Regions from separate parts of the Homo sapiens genome. Here all the other regions are linked to region 3. The links come from fine-mapping of genetic effects on gene expression. A gene starts in region 3. Each other region holds a variant in brackets. All regions are shown on one strand. Distances are between the middles of the regions. Region 1 overlaps CHN2 (chimerin 2). Region 2 overlaps CHN2 (chimerin 2). Region 3 holds the start of CHN2 (chimerin 2).

The links. PIP is the estimated chance that this variant, and not a neighbour inherited with it, causes the effect. A credible set is the group of variants that fine-mapping cannot tell apart.
Region 1: its variant is the best candidate, but not a certain one, in a credible set for the expression of CHN2 in whole blood (TOPMed, PIP 0.55).
Region 2: its variant is the best candidate, but not a certain one, in a credible set for the expression of CHN2 in whole blood (TOPMed, PIP 0.69).

Annotation. Positions count from the first base shown.
Region 1 is chr7:29,512,199-29,514,963 of GRCh38, forward strand. It overlaps CHN2 (chimerin 2), which reads left to right. Exons shown (of 13, transcript NM_004067.4): 13 at 366-2,130. The coding sequence ends at 537. PRR15-DT (PRR15 divergent transcript) reads right to left here. Exons shown (of 2, transcript NR_183550.1): 2 at 1-2,765. Among named protein-coding and RNA genes, the nearest start is that of PRR15-DT, 50 kb to the right of the region's middle. The variant T/C (reference allele first, on the strand shown) is at 1,220.
Region 2 is chr7:29,249,531-29,252,295 of GRCh38, forward strand. All of the region lies in intron 1 of CHN2 (chimerin 2), which reads left to right. Among named protein-coding and RNA genes, the nearest start is that of CHN2-AS1, 42 kb to the left of the region's middle. The variant A/T (reference allele first, on the strand shown) is at 1,111.
Region 3 is chr7:29,193,068-29,195,832 of GRCh38, forward strand. CHN2 (chimerin 2) reads left to right here and starts at 1,708. Exons shown (of 13, transcript NM_004067.4): 1 at 1,708-1,923. The coding sequence starts at 1,875. It also overlaps a transcript of CPVL not described here. RefSeq lists an enhancer at 2,361-2,765.

The DNA.
Region 1 (2,765 bases), 320 kb after region 3:
TGTATAAGGCCTATGAAAGGACCATGGGCCAGCCTCAGAATCTGCTGCCCCTACAAACCAGTATTCCTCAAATGATAGTTCCACATTTACTTAATAAGGAGGACTAATTTTCTAATTTTAAAAATTGTGTTCCTGCCAGATTCACATAAGTAATTCATTTCCACCGGCGAAGGCAATGTCAACAATTTAAAACGAAAAATCAGTAAATTACCCTTCCAAAAATACCTTTCTGCTGTTCTGATTCCCAATCTTTTTCTTGCAATTTCCTGAACCAGAGATGTTATCGGGACTTACATACATAATCAATACATAAAATCAATCCTCAAGTCTCCATAATGTCTCTGTTCTATATGTTTGTTTTGCAGGGTTACTATGAATGAAAAAGACAATTTCATGAATGCAGAAAATCTGGGGATCGTGTTTGGGCCCACTCTGATGAGGCCCCCTGAGGACAGCACCCTGACCACCCTGCATGATATGCGGTACCAAAAGCTGATTGTGCAGATTTTAATAGAAAACGAAGACGTTTTATTCTAATCCATCAGGGAAATGAGCTGAATGGCCCCAGCACCATCCAAGTTGACACAGCTAAAGGAATAAAAACATTTCTTACCACTTGATTTGTTTTCCAAGCAAGTGCTAGAATTTCCTGGACTGCAGAGGATCGCTGAGTGGGGTACTGTGTCTCATAGACATGCGCCACCTCCACGTGAGAACAAGGGTGAAGGTGAGGGAAGCCCCTCACCTTGGGTCTTTTGCTGTGCCTCCTATGTATGTCTGGTTTGCTGGAAGAGTGATTAATACATCTTTAATTTATTAAAAAACAATGTAGACCTTTAAACTTCAGTCTTATTGGTAATAAAAGGGAACTTAATTCATACAGGTACTTGATACAGTTATACATTTTCCACTTACAAAAAGAAGACAATTCTGTTAAATGAAACGTGTATCGTAAAATGTATTTTTATTTTACCCACGAGAATGTTGTTATTTTTAGCAAATAGAACTCAATGCAGTGCATTGGTTATTACCCTGTGTACCTTGTCCCTCATTTTGCTGTGACACCCTGAAAAAGCTGACCACAAATGCAGTATTATCTTGACATACCTCTGTCCTCCTCAGTGCTTTTTAATGAAATTTCACCTGCCCCTTGTGTTCCTGCTTTGGATAGTTTTTGCTCTTAAGCATTGGCATTCTTCTATTGTATGGTATGTATTTA[T/C]AGCAATTGTAGGATGGTCTGAAATGTCCACACACTTTCTATGCATACAAATTTTGTGAATTCCCAAAGTATGCTTTGGAATTGGTCATAGTCTTTTCGTATCATGAGTGTGTATCCCAGAAGATACAGAATGCGGTCATTTTACCTGAAATTATTTGAGAACACTGGATGTATCTGGTCTGTGTAAAAAGTTAGCACTTACCCTCTTTTCTTCCTGGCCAAGCCCTCTGAATTCATCTGTTAATATCAAATTGTATTTTTGCCACATTTCTGTATTGGTGAAAAGCGAATCTGCAGAATAACTGTCAACGTTTTTCATTCTTGTTTTACAAACCTATTTTTTAAAGTGAGAATAAGGTTGGTTTTTACCAAATATTTGTTCCTCCTTGACAAAAGTAGCTCTGTGTGGATAATATGATTTTATTACTACAGTTCCAGTCACTTGGTTATATTTATCTTAGCATGAGCCTTTCACACCAAGATTTCTATATTTTGTAACATAGGTGAAATATTTAAAACATCAAAAACTGTAAATCTAGATTTTTAAAAAATCCAACTGCAATGTCTTTTCCTTTGATTGAGATGATTTGTGTAAACTCACCAGTCTTGCTTTGGAGTGAGCAGAAGAGAATGACTATTTTACGTGGAGCATCATTGTGTGACTGTTGACCTGGACAGTCCCAAGGGCTATGCAGATGGACTCCATTGGCACAGGGAGGTTTGACCTCTTCCCTGCTATTATCCCTCCTCCCAACTGTACAGATTTGTTTGTTGTAGTTTATGTACTTCTTGATACTGTCAAAAAATTATCTGGAAATGGTTTTATTTTGTGAAGTGAACAATACTTTGTAATTTATGATAGTGTAAATGGAAGGCAAAGCATCACATGTATTAAATTCTTCTGTCTATTATTCTGGAGTATGTGCAAGAAAGTGGTTTGGAGGGATGGGGTGGTGGATCATCAAAACATTGTTTCCAGATAGACGCTGGCAACAAATTTTCAGTCATCACTGAAACACAATGAGAAAACAGCATCTCATCGAGTCCCCACTCCTTCTGCAAGCTCCCTTCTAGAGAGCCTGCTTCAAGATTAAGGCCCTGAGGCTCCACATTCACTTTCCATAAGCCCCACTGCATGGATGCATCATCATACAGAGGTGAACCGTTTAGGGCAAATCACCCTAGGCCACTTGGAGGGTAGCAGAACAAGACTTTTAAAGTCAGAAAGCCCTGAGTTTGATCCCAGATCCATCCATTTAGTACTACCTGCATATAACCATGGGAAGTTTGCGGCTCTGAAAAACTGAAGATGATAATCTGATTGTGACACCTTAAATGAAATTTATGTTCTAGGGTAATTAGTAATAGTTATTTCTCATTATTACCATTTTAGAAGGGGAAAGGATATAACATGGAAGCAGGGATGGAAGAAGCATAAGAAAAGGATTTGTCACAGGTTCAATCCAAGTCCAAATAGCACTAAAGGATATAACAGGCCTCTATAATGGGTAATGAAGTTCACTTGACTCCTTTTCTCAAATGTGAT
Region 2 (2,765 bases), 56 kb after region 3:
GCTTTACTAGGTTTCTTTTCTAAGTGTTCTTTAACCAGGCAAGTTGACACCTAACCGTCACAACCCGCTAGGTTGTCCTGCGGCCTTTCTGCTCTAAGCCATTTGTCTTTTTCCTGCTGGATTACAGGTTATTTGAGTGTAGAGAATGTATTCATCCACGTGTATCTTGCAGCTTCCAGGAAAGCAACTTAAGCTTAATAGCCGCTCCAATGTGAAAGATATTATGGAATAAATTGTCAAAAAAGACAGATATTACATTTACTTTTGTGATAGTTTACATCTATAAGGAAAAAATAGGAAAGACTTTTCAGGAATGGTAGCGACATGAATACCAATAACCAATTCCATTCTTTAAAAATTTAAAAATGTGAATTTAAACAAGTGGCAATTTTAGTTGTAAAACCATATGTAAGAATTACCTTTTCTTCTACTCTCTTGCCTGGTGAAGAGAGTCTAAGGCTTCTGAATATATCTGCATTGCCAAGACCTTACCGACTTAACCATATTTAGCACAACATGTGATTTTATTGTTCATCTGCAACTATGTTGTCTGTTATATTTGCTTCTGTTCACTACCAGAGACATCAGTTAGCTCAGATTTCTATTAACAGGCATAATGTCATGGCACTCCCTGGGATGAAAGAAAGAGAGCAGGAATTAGCCATTTGTAGCTTTTACAGCACCACCTTTATCAATATATTCCCATTTAAAAATATCCTTTTATCTGCATTGCAAAAATGAAATTATATAGCCATTACCAAAATTAGATAGGAGATTCATTGGATCAGAAGTGCTTTCTTTCTAATCCTTAAATGACCAAAGGGTTCTTCTTTGATAATTCTATAACAGAGTTAAAATTCCTTTTATCCTGAAATGTTACAGATAGGAGATTAACCTAGTTATGCTTCACCCATGTAAGGAGTGCATGTCTCACAGAATCAGGCAACAGCAACAGAGGTGTCTGATGTAGGAAGGTACAGAAGACATGAGACTTTCATGAATTATAACATGACTCCTTAAATAATACAAAAGTACTTTACAAATAATTAGACTATTTTAGACTAGGAACTCTGATTTCCGGTTAAACCTTAAGTTGCTTCCTACTTGTTG[A/T]TGTGTAATAATGTACATGGAGCACCACACCTAGTAAGAAGACTCTTCCCTTTTTTTACCTGAACTTCTTCTTTTTTTTTTTTTTTTTGAGGCAGAGTCTTCCTCTGTCACCCAGGCTGGAGTACAGTGGCACAGTCTTGGCTCACTGCAACCTCTGCTTCCAGGGTTCAAGCGATTCTCCTGCCTCAGCCTCTCAAGCAGCTGGGATTACAGGCACCCGCCACCATGCCAGGCTAATTTTGTATTTTTACTAGAGACGAGCTTTCACCGTGTTAGCCAGGCTGGTCTCGAACTCCTGACTTCAGGTGATCCACCCGCCTCAGCCTCCCAAAGTGGTGGGATTACAGGCATGAGCCACTGCACCCAGCTTGCCTGAACTTCTTTACAATTTAGTAATATTTTGATCACTTATTAATTATGGGCAAGGATGGCAAAATTGAATAGAAATACTAAAGTTAATCAGTAAACATTTGTTATATATCTACCATGCAGGATGTTTTGCAAGGGATTATGATTTAAAATAAAATACCAGACCAGGCATGTGGCTCAGGCCTGCAATTCCAGCCCTTTGAGGGGCCAAGGCTGGCGGATCGCTTGAGCCCAGCAGTTCGAGATCAGCCTGGGCAACACTGCAAAATCCTGTCTCTACAAGAAAATACAAAAGTTAGCTGGGTGTGGTGACATGTGCCTGTTGTCCCACCTACTTAGGAGGCTGAGGTGGGAGGATCTCTTGAGCCTGGGAGGTCAAGACTGCAGTGAGCCGTGATCATGCCGCTGCATTTCAGCCTGGGCAACAGAGCAAGATTCTGTCTGAAAAAAATAAAATAAAATAACATAAAATAAAATAAATAAAATACCTGCCTTCTAATAAGATTACTTTTTAGTGTTGTTATAGGGATGAGATATATATCAAGCACCGAACATGGTGAGTACTGAATAAATGCGAGGCAGTGTTTTCAAGGTAACTTCGTGTAACTAACACTTACACAGAATTTCAGAGAGAATAAGATAATTCAGACATATTAGTAATATTTGATAAACAGAGATTTCACTCTTTCCTCAACATAGTGTTCTGAGATTGAAATGAAGAGAAATATGTCAGTACATGAAAACTGTGAGTGTTTACTTTCAACTGTGAAAACGAAGCCAGATTTGGAACTAGTAAGGTATTCATCACAAAAATAGAACCTAATTATATGTAATTGAAGATAGGGCTTGATGCATGGCACTTATTTTAGAGATTCAAACATGTAAAATAAGGGTGACAGTGGTTTTTGAAGGTGCTTTAAATTTTATATCCATCTCAAAAATCTTACACATGCTATATATACTTAAATAGACCAAATTCATTCTCATTAACCCACAAACAGCAATAGAAAGGCTCTGGGCTAGGAGAGAAACTGAGGTTTAGGTAAAAATTTTGCCACTGTGGCAAGTTGAATAATGTCCCCCCAAATTTATGTCCATCCAGAACCTTAGAATGTGATCTTGTGATCTCATTATGCAAATTGGGCATAATAAAACCTACCACATAAGATTATACAGGATTTTTTTTTTTTTTTTTTTTTTAGACAGTCTTGCTCTGTTGCCCAGGCCGGAGTGCAGTGGTGCCATCTCAGCTCACTGCAACCTCCACCTTCCAGGTTCACGAGATT
Region 3 (2,765 bases):
CTGGGAAAATGCGGGCGCTTGGGTCTCCTTAGACCAGCCAGGGCTGTTTCAAGGTCCATACAGTTGAGGGGTAGGAAGACGCAGTCCCACGTGACTGAAGAGTGCTCACACTCCTTTAACAGTTTAGCAAGGTGTATTTTTAAAAAATGGACCTTAATGAGAAGACACACTGGGATAGTATCCTGGAGGGATTTTTTTTTTTAAGTTCTAATCAACTAGAAAATGTGACGTGGGTGCGTACTGTGATTATTTAACATTCATTATTCACTGTATGTTAGGTCCTTGGTTGATGTGGATCCCCAGGGCCTAGCTGCTGTTCTGTGTCACTCCTGATAATTTTTAAATTGACTATGTTCTTTTAACCATGTTTTAAAAAGTTGAACTACCCCAATGTGAACACTTTCCATTTTTGCTATATAATGAGAGTACTTTCATTCCTTTAATGTTTGCTTTTTCCTTTGATCTAACAATTTCTCTTCAAATTTCACAGTTTTCTGTTGCTTTAGGATTGAAAGAACCGATTAGCCCGCTGGGAGCGTGAAACAGACTTAAAAAAAATCTGCATGGTATTTCCTCCCAGTGAAATTAATTTAGGTTTAAATACAGGGGGAAGGGACACACCTTGTGCTCGAGTCTCTTTCTCTCACACACCTGAGCAGTTCCTATCCTGAAAGGGCACAGTCGGACCTGCTGCCAAGTCTTAAGTCTTTTGTGAGAATCTTTTTTTGCAAGGCACGGAGAACCTCTTTCTCTTTGACACCAGCTTTGTGTGGGCCTGATGACACGTTTGGACGGCTCTATTTCTTTGAAGGCCAACCTCAGAGGCCCACGGACGCGTCGGGCACTGTCCGTGGCTGGGTTACTTAAGTGTAGCTGGGTTGGCTTCCCGGGTGTTTTAGGAAACGCACCTTCTTGCAGGGCAGGGACCGTCAGCTCCAGAGCAACAAAGGACAATTTGGAGAGGAGTGGAAGGAGCGCTCCATAGTGGCTCTGTCATCCCAGGTTCCCTTCTGCCTAGCACCGTGGCCCTAGTGATCCCGCCTTCGCCCTCTGGATCCCCCACCCCCACTGTCTCGCTGCTCGAGAGCCCGGCGGGGCGCGGTGAGCCCCACCACCTTCCCCCACACCCTCCCTCCCCATCCCCTTCAAATCCTAGGAGCAGCGCTGCGCGCAGCAGCCGCGCTCGCCCCGCGCCCGGCCCCGGCCTCCCCAGCACCCCGGGGACCCGGTCCCCCGTCCCGCCTCCCCCTGTCCAGCAGTCCGCAGCCTCCCCCTCCAGCCCCAGTGGCGGGAGCTGTCAAGCCCGCAGCAGCCGAACCACCCCCCGAGCGACCGCGTCTCCTCTTCTTCCTTTGTGTGTGCGCGAGCGGAGTTGGGGCGGAGGGAGAAGGGGGAGGTCGCTCTGTCTGTCCGTCTCCCGCCGCCTCTGCCCGGTCTACTCGAAGTGCGGCGGGAGAGGCGGGAGCCCAGGAGAGGGTGCGGGAGCTGGCGGGGCGGCTCGGAGCTGCCAGGACGCCCTGGTCCCAGCCGCGCACAGGGGAGCGTGGACGGCAGAGGGGCTCGGCGGGAGCCGAGATCCGCCCGTCCCGGCTGCCCCTCGGCCTCCCTCTGCTCCCACCTACCCCCTGACACCCATAGAAAAGCGTGCAAAGGCGCGGAGCGGGACGGAAACCACAAATAAATAGCGGCGGCGGCAGCGCGTCATCTGGTGGAGCAGGAAGTGCAGGCAGAGTCCGGAGGCTGGTGCTTTCTGCGCGTCCCCAGGACTTTGCCATGGGCTGGGGGCCGCGGAGGCTGCGAGCGGCCGGGCGAGGGCAGCGGCGGCGGCGTCCGCACCGGGGCTGAGCGAGCAGCGACGCGAGGGGCGCGCGGAGATGGCAGCGTCCAGCAACTCCAGCCTGTCCGGCTCGTCGGTGTCCTCCGGTGAGTTTCAGCCCGTCGGGCGCTGCTGCCGCGCCGGGTCTCGCCCCACTGCCCTCGCCCCGCAGCCTGGGATGGACAGAGCCTACCTGTGGCCATCCCGCCCGCTCTCTCGGAATGGGGGCAGGCGTCCGGGGTGATACTTGTTTGGTTCGCCAGCACCTCGGTGCCCAGAGCACCTCCGCGCCTGACATCTGACAGCGCAGAGGTGGGAGAGCGGTGGTGCCCTTAGTGTGCGGACGCGGGTGTTCCGGGGCTTGGAGTGCAGCGAGCGAAAAGCGAAAGGAGCGGGCAGGCTCGCACTTTCTGGCGCAGCTGGAGCGGGGGCTGGCGGGGCGGAGAAGGTTGGGGTGAAGCAGAGCGCCCCGACCTGTTTGCCGTGCCGCGCCCGCTACCCTGGACACCCAAATCCGGAGCAGAGGGGAGCAAACCCTCGCTCCTCGCAGACTTGATTTTCTTTGTTTGTTTCAGAAATTAGCTCTATGGAGACACTCGCTTGGGCATGGGTTTTAGACAGCAGCAATGAAGGGATGTATCTTTCTGATCCTGATTGAAGTGGGTTAGGGGAAGAGAGGTCGAGCCCATCCTCTGACTCTTGGCACATTTACGAGAGAGAGAGAGAGAGAGAGAGAGAGAGAGAGAGTGTGTGTGTGTGTGTGTGTGAGAGAGAGAGAGAGAGAGACTCCTTAGAGATTTTCTGATAATAGTGGCTGTAATTTCACTAGCAAGGCATGCATTTTTTTTCCTTTTAAGAATGGTTGAGCAAAGGGAAGGCTTCTTTCAGCTTTTCTATGGTTGATCATCGGGTCTAATTGAAGAGAAAAAAATTGCTAATGAATCTGAAG